Linked DNA regions of Homo sapiens. The protein of the gene in region 3 purifies or fractionates together with the protein of the main gene of each other region. This does not show direct contact. Each region holds a gene or a part of one and is shown on either strand. Other genes may lie near its edges. The genes, in order: LARP1, KLC1 and TRIM16.

What was found.
Region 1: the proteins of TRIM16 (region 3) and LARP1 fractionate together in Homo sapiens (co-fractionation; one large-scale study listed by BioGRID). This does not show direct contact.
Region 2: the proteins of TRIM16 (region 3) and KLC1 fractionate together in Homo sapiens (co-fractionation; one large-scale study listed by BioGRID). This does not show direct contact.

What each region holds. Positions count from the first base shown.
Region 1 is NC_000005.10:154,803,747-154,807,398, reverse strand, and holds part of LARP1 (la-related protein 1), read right to left. Parts: intron 3,199-3,652; coding exon 3,092-3,198; intron 1,519-3,091; coding exon 1,367-1,518; intron 1-1,366. UniProt on the Homo sapiens protein: RNA-binding protein that regulates the translation of specific target mRNA species downstream of the mTORC1 complex, in function of growth signals and nutrient availability.
Region 2 is NC_000014.9:103,695,081-103,698,649, reverse strand, and holds part of KLC1 (kinesin light chain 1), read right to left. Parts: exon of another isoform or gene 1,495-3,569; intron 1,034-1,494; exon of another isoform or gene 1-1,033. UniProt on the Homo sapiens protein: Kinesin is a microtubule-associated force-producing protein that may play a role in organelle transport. The light chain may function in coupling of cargo to the heavy chain or in the modulation of its ATPase activity.
Region 3 is NC_000017.11:15,674,242-15,677,893, forward strand, and holds part of TRIM16 (tripartite motif-containing protein 16), read right to left. Parts: intron 3,481-3,652; 5' UTR 3,334-3,480; intron 3,040-3,333; 5' UTR 2,935-3,039; intron 1-2,934.

The DNA.
Region 1 (3,652 bases), on a different chromosome or scaffold from region 3:
TTTGTCAAAGGGTTAAACATGGTTACCCCATGACCCAGCAATACTACTCTTCTAACCAAAATAAAGGAGAAACTACGTCTACAGGAAACCTGTATGTGAATATGCCCAGTAGCATCATTCACAATAGACAAAAAGTAGAAACAACCCAAATGCCAATCAACTGATGAATGGATACACAAAATGTGATACATCCATACGATGGAATATGATTTGGCAATAAAAAGAATAAAGTACTGATGCATGCTATGACATGAACCTTGCTGTGTATTTGTTAGTATACCAAATATACTAAGGGGAAGAGGCCAGTAACAAAGGACCACATACAGTATAATTTATGTGAAATGTCCAGAATAGGCAAAATCCTTAGAGGCAGAAAGTAGGTTAGTAGTTTCATAGGGCTGGGAGGATTCTGGGGGTGGGGAGTAGTTTGCATGTATAATGAGTATGACTGGTAAGGGGCATAGCATTTTGGGGGTAATGAAAATGTTCTAAAATTGATTCTGGTGATGGGCACACAACTATATGAGTACACTTAGAGCTATTACATTGTATTCTTTAGGTATGTTCCATCATATGTAGATTATATCCCAATAAAGCTGTTATTACACATAGAGTAAGAAAGAGAGAAGTGAAGTGGATGAATCAAGAATTTAGCAACCACGTTTTGTTGAATGAAAGAGGATGAATGAGTTAATAACTACAGGTGACTAGATTGGTTTTGCGCGTCTTTACAGCCAACCTATCAGAATACTAAAAGAGCAGGGACAGACAAGAGCATCTAGACAGGCTCGTTCCTTACACTATCATCTAGAGAGGGGATCAGCAAACTACTTTTGTAAAGGGACAGAGAACAAATATTTCAGGCTTTACAGAAGACATATAGTCTCTGTCACAAATCTTTTTTTCTTACAACCCCTTAAAAATGTAAAAACTGTCCTTAGCTCCAAAGCCATACGAAAACAGAATACTGGCTGGATTTGACTCACAGGCCAGTTTGGCAACCTTTGTTCTAGAGAGCATATGTCACCTCTTACATACCCTTTTGTGATGGACAGTGGACTAGACCTGACAATGGCTGAGTCAGTAATCTTGCCAGAGATATGGAAATACTTAATTGACAGCTTTAATAATCAATAGAGGAAGATCAAAGAACACGAACGTTGTGAGTGCCATATCCCCCTAGCTTCCTACAGTTTAAAACTACCTGGCCCGAGTCTAACTTCAGTCTTTCTTGCTATAATGTCATGTCTTTTTTTTGCTCTGAAGTCAGAGAAAAGAGTCACCTATCCCCGTATCCCCCAACTCTTATACTCTGGGTCTAAATAACGGGCCCAGAGGCTCATCTCCTGCCCCCCACACTTCTTACCATTAAGGCAGCGCCTACGATACTTATGGTAGACGTGTTGTGTGAAGCCATTTTCCTTGAGCAGTTCATGGGAAGGATGCTGGAACTTGGGCAATGACTGAGGGGTACAGCCATAGCTGCCAACTGTAGGCGTCCCTTCTGAGGGGCTGGAGCTACAGAAACCACAAAAAATACTGTCACCAGGTTCCCCACAGCAGCCCCACCATGTCAGGAGGGGTCCCTCTGATCCGTTCTGTCAGCCAAGATCCATCCTCTCACAGGGTATCAAACAAGGAGGCCCAGTTACGGACCTTTAACTTATATCCATGGGTCTGATTAACTCTGCATCAACTCTCAGAGAGTTTTACAGAGGATACTGAGGCTTACAGAGATTAGGAGACTCATCCAGGGTCATAAGACTATTTAATGGCAGAAACGTGTCCAATGATAAAACTTGAGCTTTTAACCATTTATTAACTTTAAGCATTTAACCTTTTAATGAGCCATCATGGGTCAATCCATCTACAGTGAACCCTTGAACAACATGGGTTTGAAATGCATGGATCCACGCGTGGGTCCACTTATACGCAGATTTCTTCCACCTTTGCCACTCTTGAGACAGCAAGACCAACCCCTCCTTCTCAGCCTGCTCAATGTGAAGACCATGAGGATGAGGACCTTTATGATGATTCCCCTTTGCCACTCGAGAGAGCAAGACCAACCCCTCCTTCTCAGCCTGCTAAACATGAAGACCACGACGATGAAGACCTTTATGATGATTCTACTTCCACTTACTGAACAGTAAATATTTTCTCTTATGATTTTAACTTTTATTTTAGGTTCAGAGGTATGTGTACAGGTTTGTTAAGTAGGTAAACTGTACCTCACTCTCCTCCCTCTCCCCACCAAGTAGGCCCCAGTGTTTGTTGTTCCCTTCTTTGTGATTTTCTTAGTAATATTTTTTATTTAGCTTATTGTAAGAATACAGTATGTAATACATATAATATGCAAAACATGTGCTAATTGACTATATGTTATTGGTAAGGCTTCTGGTTAACAGTAGGCTTTTGGAGAGTCAAAAGTTATACACGGATTTTCAACTGTGTGCAGCTGGGCACCCCACGCCCTTCGTTGTTCAAAGATCAATTGTATATTTTCTTCAAAAGCATGCCTATTTGCAGTCTGTGCCATCTCTGCAGGGAGTAGAGAGCATTGGTCATAGGTAGGTGGCTCTCAAAGCTTGCTTTGGGAAACAGGAAACACACACTGGGGCCATCTTACTGAAATAAATAAAAAAGAGTGTGGGCCCTACCCCAAGAAGCAGGGTCAGCAGATACAGGTTGGGGCCAATAAATATGTATTTTTTTAATTTTTAAAACTTTTCAAGTAGCCTCCCAAGACATAGTAGGCTCAGAGAGACTGCCAGAAATCTGTTTATTCAACTACCTGGCTATTCTTCCTCAGACAGAAAGTAGATAGCCAGGCTTGGAAACCAATTCAGAGATTTTCTCTCTGCATGTATGAAAATCTGGTCTCACGTGACTGCCACACCACTTCTTTAGGAAAAAAGCCTACCCGTCATTCCCAGGTCCTGGGCTGAGCTTTCCACACCACTGGTTTTTTGAAAACCTCTTAGATGAGGGTCCCTTTAATTTTCAGACCAATCTTCTTGGTCCAGTCAATTTCATGGCTCGCCCACCCATCCCATAGGCAGCCTGATCACTCTTCCCCCACTGCCCCAGGTACCTGATGGAAGCAGTACGGGGCCTGTGCTCACGGGAATCCATCACCCAGCCCACATGGCTCTCCAAGGGTGGGTTTGAACTGTGTCTTGTCTTTCTTTTTCGAGGCATCTGCAAAGGTTAGCCCAGGGTTTGTTACTGTTTGTACTCCTACAACTCTGAGGAGCATCAAGCACTTGTAGGACTAAGATGGGCATGATCTCTCACATTTTACAACAGCATTTTCATATTCATTCTCGTATAAAGTTCACAGTGGTGAGCTAGGAACTGGTATGCCTATTTCAAACAGGTGAAGAAATCAAGGTTTGGGAATGCAGTGATTTGCCCAAGGACTCATACCTGGTCAATCCTCCTTAGGCCTTTCAACATGGGGTTACCACTCCCACACCCAGTATATTTTGCAGATGTGGCTACCTAATCCTAGGTAAGCCCACCAGCCTCAGAACACAGAGCAGGTGAAGGATTTAGCACTTCCTTAGCTCAGACAAGGCAAGGGAGAGAAGCAAAGCACTGGAATGCAATGAAGTAGACCCAAGACTCTGAGCAGCCCGACAGGAATGCCTCA
Region 2 (3,569 bases), on a different chromosome or scaffold from region 3:
AAGATGGTGGCCACAGACTGACCCCCATCTGAGCTGGGGGGATGTTCTGCCTCTCCCTGGGTCTGGGGACAGGCCCGCTTGCTGGGTACCTGGTCCCCACTGCTGAGCTGGCCCTTGGGGAGAGGTGATTCTCAGGGCTGGAGCCTGGGGTGTCCTACAGTGACTCCCTGGGAGCCGCCTGCTTCTTCTCTCCACATGGAAGCCCAACTGGGGTTGCGTCTGAGGCCTGCCCCCTGGGCTGGGGCCTCAGACCCCCTCAGCCTTGGGACCGTGCCCACGAGGGTCTCCCCTCCTGCACACAGGGCAGTCCTTACTCCCCCACCACTCAGGCCACAGTGGGGCTGCAGGCAGGCGGCTCCTCCTCACCCACCTCTGGGTCCTTGGCTCCCGGGGGCCCCACCTCGGCACACACTGTGCCCCACAAAACTTCAGTGTGGTACAAGGTGGAGAAAGCATATCCCACCAACCTCCAGTGTCAGGGTCCAGGAGAGCCTGGGGGTGGGGGGACTGCCTTGTCTCTAGTAGTGTGGCCTGTGCCAGCACCACAGCCGGTCAGAGGAGCGCAGGCAGCGCAGGGCTGGCACGTGACAGGCTCGTCAGCCACCTGGGAACACAGTTCTGGGCAAAGAGGATCCGAGGTTGAGAGGAAGGAGGGTCCCGGTGTATCCTGGCCCTGGGGGTCTGGGCGTCCAGCTCAGCCCTGGCCTGGCTGGGTGGTATTCTGGTAGGGATATGGCAGGACTCCTGGCAGGGCCACCTGCAGGACCCTGTCCTGCAGTCCCACACTGTGCAGACCCAGTCCCACACTGTGGCCAGGCCTTACATCTGGCTGGAAAGCAGAGCCTCCTGGGAACACATCTGGCTGCACAGGCTGAAATATCCACCCAGCAGGCAGAGTGGCGTGGCCTCCCCATGGGCACAGTGGTGACCCCCTTGATTCCCACCGTACAACCCCCTCCACCCCCCACTCAGTGCCTCCACATGCTGCCTGGCACAGACCAGGCCTTTGACAAATAAATGTTCAATGGATGCAGTTCCAGGACCTGCTTCTTGCTGTCTGCCAGGCACTGCTCTGAGTAATTTATACACATTGAAGTATGTTCTCCTCACAACTCCTAGGGATAGGTACTGTTACATCTCCACTTGCAGGTAGGGAAATTCAGGCCCAGAACCGTTAAGTAGCTTGACTCCTCCCACAACCCAGAGGCAGAAATTGTCACCCCCCACCTTATGTGCCCAGGGTGAGCCTGTGGGTGCTCCTACAGTGGGAGGAAGGGGGGCTGGCACTGGTTGGGGGAAAGGTAAGGGCTGGGGCCATACTGTGCAGAATTTTTCTGTTTGCCGTTTTCCAGGGTGGGACAATCCGTTTAAACCTTCATCATGTTATCAAGGCTCTCTATGACCCTAAAGTTAAGAATCACTGGCATGAACATGGGAAAAAGTTATTTTGGGGTTGGATTTTTACAAAACAGCCTTTCTGCAAAAGTGCAGGAATTCTACAATGGCAAGTAAGACATTTTATTTCTGTAATTGAACATAAGCAATTCCAAATGCTTTTCTAGGCAAGACATGCCAGCGATTAGAAAATGAGACAGCTTAAAGACAGAGGTACATTTAACAGAGAAAACACGCCTGGAAGCTCGGCCGGCCCCGCCCATGCTGGCTCAGTTCCTGCCCCTGGAGGGAAGGGGCCGAGGGGCTTCCCGTCCCAGGGAACTCCCACCACAGGAGTCTGCAGACGGGCTGGCCTGGCAGTCAGTCCCAGAACACTGACCATCCCCTTAGGGAGGCACCACGCCCTGGGGAGCACAGTTCCAGGCCAGGGCCATGGGTCTTGCCCTGAAGACCCTCCCTCAGGGACCACGCGCCCTGACCCTCATTGCCTCACCATATTATAAAACACTAAAACCGCTTAAGTTCTTCCCCACAGAGTTGGGGAACTAATTGTAAACAGAATACACGTCTACATATCAGCCCTGAGACAGCTGGCCCCGCTGCACACGCAGCCTGCTGGCCCCAGCAAGACACGGTCAGAGCTGGTAAGTGCTCTACAGCATTCAGAAATCTGACCACAGCGTACACACAGCTCACAAGTCAGTGCAAACAGAAGCTAATGACATCCTCCAAGAAAATTCCATACAGTTATGACAATGGAAAACCTGTTATACATTGTAACGATACATCATTAGCAATGTTTAATACATCTTACTATAAACACTGAATTTCTAAGTACATGATACTCCTAGCAGCTTAATCCAGAAAACAACGATGTGAATCCCTCCAATACTGTAAACACAAGACCAAGTGCTGCCCATGAGAGTGCCCCGTGCCACCCGCGGGCACCACCGGCCTCTGAGGACCCCTGAGCCACACACTGCTGCTGCTTCAGGGAAGCATCCATGTCACAGGACTTCCCCAGGGGCCTGATTTCTGCCACAGCTGCACCAACTACCCAGAGATATGCTGTCCGCCCACAGATCCAGACGCTCCCATGCCATGGTTGCTGGGGACGGGCGCTGCACACACGGCTGCTGTGGGGGGGGGCGGGGGGCGGGGGCGCAGTGATTATTTTGACAGCAACTCTGAAGAAACAGGTGCTGACTCTCGCGTGGGGTTCCTCTCACCAGAACGACCACACACAGGAGGAGGGATGCCTGGGCCCACCACTTCTCTCCTCTGAAGGGAAAAATTCAGACCGCCAGATGGGAAATGGCTGAAATCACCGCACTTCTATTGGGTGGAAGGGTTCAAACATCGGGGACTCAGGTACTCAGATTCCCTTGCCGCCTCCCTCTGAAACACGAACCTTCCTTTATGAGCTGGCTTCAGGGAGGCCCCCTGGCTTCTCTTACCCCAACACACAGTGCTCCCACAGCCACAGTGCTGCAGAGGCCACCTCGGCCCTAAAGTCCCATGGCTGGAAGCCACAGCAGGCTCCACAGAGGCCCCACACAACCTCGTCTGCACCCATCAGTCTGAAGAGGTTAAAATTCAACTCCATATTCAGCCCTATGTTTATTCCTTCTAAATGCCCTTTTTCCTTTCCAGATAACTGTCACTAAGGGAAACTGTCTGGGTTCCAAACTCTGCTCAGCATCCTCACAGGGAGAAGGCACCCCCACCACAAGGGAAGCTCCGGAGCCCTCCTCCCTGTCGCCTGTGCACAGACATAGCCCACTACGGGGGCAGCCACGGCACCTGTCAGGGGAAGCTGCTCTACACCCCCCTTTTTTTGGGGGGGGTTGGCTTCTCACAACCCATCAAATTATATATGTATATATATGTATGTATATATATATATATATATATACACACACACACATATATATATATATACACATGGTTTTTTTTGCTAGACACAGGGACTCGCTGTGTTGCCCAAGCTGTTCTTGAACTGGGCTCAAGTGATCCTCCCGCCTCAGCCTCCCAAAGTGCTAAGATTATAGGATTACTGGCATGAACCACCGCACCCAGCCATATATATATATATAATTTAACATTTTTTCTTTTAATCCCATCCACTATTACAGAACCTATGAAATTTTCTTCAACACCTCTATGTAGCATTT
Region 3 (3,652 bases):
CACCTGTAGTCCCAGCTACTTGGGAGGCTGAGGCAGGAGAATCACTTGAACCTGGGAGGCGGAGGTCACAGTGAGCTGAGATCATGCCATTGCACTCCAGCCTGGTGACAGAGCAAGACTCCGTCTCAAAAAAAAAAAAGACACAATAACATTAAAGAGCTATTTTGAGATAAGTGAAAAAAGATTTCTGAAAAGGTAGATGTAACAGAGTTTGGCCCCATTTTTGATGTCTGGCCATTGACAGCATTTAAGTTTCCACCATTTTCTATTCTCCCCTCCCCCACACTGCCCCACCGCACACCTGGTGCTTTAGATAAAGAAATCCATGGGCATCTCCTGAGCTCCCAGCACTGGCAGGAAGCTTGAATCCCTCAAGCCCACAGATCGAATGCTCTCCAGCCCCATTCCCTAGCTACTTTAAAGGCCCAGCCTCCTCTCTGTTCTTGCCATTTTGGACCAGCTTTCATCTATCCTGCTCTCCCCAGAAACCCTGTGTATGAATAGTAAACTTTCAAGTTCTCTTAGTGTGTGAAATGTCATCAGTCTTGACATCTGGCCTATTAACTGAGTCCCTCATCTCCCGGGGGGTGATCACAAAACAGTGGGATGAGGTAAAGCAAACAAAAGCTGCCCACAGGAGGGTATGAGCTGGGGGCAGGAATGACTACAGATTAAGGCAAAGTTTTATAGGAAGGTGGTATTAGGATATGTAATTAGCTATGAGCTTCTTTATTTTGTTTGGACATGGCACTATTTCCATCAGTACAAGAAGGGGCAACAAGCTCAGTTCTGCACAACTAGAATTTCTTGGCTTATTCCTGAGGCCAGGGAAGGGGGGTAAAATCACTGCATGGTGACAGCAGTCATTTCAGGTACAGACAAAAATACACACATATACATATAAAAATTGAGCTTTAGAGTCTATTAGGCTAGTCCAGATTTCAGTTCAGTGTTTCTTCACTTGGATTTGTGATATTCTGATAGCTTTGCAAGAGAAAATAACCAGGGTAGGAGAGGAGGGATTTTCATCCCTTAAAATATAATAAAGCATCGCCACTGTAACAACCTATAAAAGTATAATTCTTTGGTATTTAACCAAATGAAGAGTCTGAGTGGATTTGTCCAGACATTCAGGGAGATTCTCCACTGTGAAGTCTCTGGTGTCTAATGAGGGCTGAACTACACGAAAGCTCTGCCACATTTATGTGACAGAACTCATACCGGAGAAAAACCCTACAAGTGTAAAGAATGTGGTGAAGCCTTCAGTCAGAGCTCAACTCTTACAAAACATATAAAGGTCTACACTGGAGAGAAACCCTACACCTGTAAAGACTGTAGGAAAGCCTTCAGCCAGAGTTCATCTCTTACCCAGCATCAGAGGGTTCATACTGGAAAGAAACCATTTGATTGTCAGGAGTGTGGGAAAGCCTTCAGTAGAAGCGCCCATGTTACCCAACATCAGAGGATCCACACTGGAGAGAAGCCCTGTGTATATACACATACGTATGTGTATGTATACATACGTATGTGTATATACACATACGTATATATACATGTGTATATACATATATATTTGCATATATAATATAAAAATATATATATTATATACTATACATATATATATACTTTTTTTTGCAGATACTTGAATGTTTGTGTTCGTTAGAGTTCTAGGCTCTCTTGTAACTCTTTTTGTGCTCTTTGGGTGATATTATCCACTCCCATGGCTTCAATTTCATCCATTCTCAGGCAACTCCCAAATCTGTACCCCCAGTTAAGATCTCTTTCCTTTACTAAGATACATTTGGCATGTCGTCCTTATATTCATCTAGCCTCCAGACATTACCACTTAGAGCAGGTTTTCTCAACTGCAGCACTGTTGCCGTTTTAGACAGACAAGTCTTTGTGTGGGGCCCCGTCCTGTGCATTGTAGGATGTTTAGCAGCATTCCTGGACTCCACTCACGAGATGCCCATAGCACACTTCAGACGTTGCCAAATGTCCCCCGGGGGGCAAACTTGCCCCTGGTTAAGAACCACTGGTTTAGACTTATTATAGACACTTCAAACAACTTAAGAGAAACTGAACTCATCTTCCACTCCCTAAATTTGCTACTTCTCCTGTGTTTTCCATCTCAGGGAAGAGAACTTCCATTCACCTACACATCCAGACCAGAAACCTGAGAATTTTTTCTTTTTTTTTTTTTTTTTTCTTGAGATGGAGTCTCGCTCTGTCACCCAGGCTGGAGTGCAATGGCATGATCTCGGCTCGCTGCAAGCCCCACCTCCTGGGGTTCACGCCATTCTCCTGCCTCAACCTCCCAAGTAGCTGGGACTACAGGTGCCCGCCACCACGCCCGGCTAATTTTTTGTATTTTTAGTACAGATGGGGTTTCACCATGTTAGCCAGGATGGTCTCCATCTCCTGACCTCGTGATCCGCCCGCCTCGGCCTCCCAAAGTGCTGGGATTATAGGCGTGAGCCACTGCGCCTGGCCGAAACCTGAGAATTTTCTTTGTTACTCCCTCACCTCTCAAATCTACACAACAAATTATGTCAATTTTATATCCTTAAAATTATTCAAATTCTTTCCTTCTCTTCATATTTCTTATATAGCAGAAAACTAGGTAGGATAAGGACAGAGTAAATGAAGAAGTGATTCCAGCTACTAAAGAGGAAATGGGAATAGCCTCATAAAATGCCTCAGGATGAGGCACAAAGCTGATCTCTGGATCATGTGTTGGGCTTATAACTTTAAGGAGGAAGTATCTCTTCCTTGAGTCTGGGAAGAAATAAAGAGGTAAGCTATTAGGATTCTGATGTGGTCAAGTGAAGATGAGACTGCAGGGGGATTCAACATTTTCTACAGGCCCGGAGGATTTGGGAAGAACCCCTAACTCTTATTTCTAAAGATGCAATCTGCCTTGTTCTCACTTACGTGTACCGCTGCTTCTTGGCACCTCTCCCTCCTGCATTTGTGTTCGTGGGCTTACCACTTCTTCCAACTAGGAGATGATACCAGGTTTGGAAAATGGAAATCCTACTGAAGAGATACAAACAGAATGTAATTTTAAGTTCAAAAGAGAAAGGACCACTCTATTCTCAGTCCCACTCTGTTGCATTTTAGAGAGGAGAAAACGAAATAACTAATTGTCAAAAGCAATTAAATAATTTCTACCCAAGTAGGGTGAGAAACAGTTTAAGGATCTGATCTGGATTCTGTGGGGGAAAATAACCAAAGCCTCATTTGTTACCATTCCCTAATAGAAGCAAGGGAATCTTTAGAAGGCAAAGGTATCCTGAAAGGTCAATCTGGGGTGGAAGGACCCAAGCTCACCCAAGGAGACCAGGTTCCTATAGTTCTCCAGCATTACATCCCTGTACAAGACTCTCTGAGCAAGGTCCAGTTCTCTCCATTCTTCCTAGTGAAGTTCACAGCCACATCCTTGAATGACATAAAGCCCTGAAACACCTGCATGGGGTTCTGAAGAAAAAGTTACATGAGGCATACTTAGGGGAGACTGATGGGATGGAGAGGAAATAGATTAAACTATGTTCACAGTGTCAAAGACAAGATTTTATTGACTCGTATATTAAAGAATCTTAAAATCTTAAAATGTGTATACCCCTCTGACATAATTTGATAGTTTTGTTTT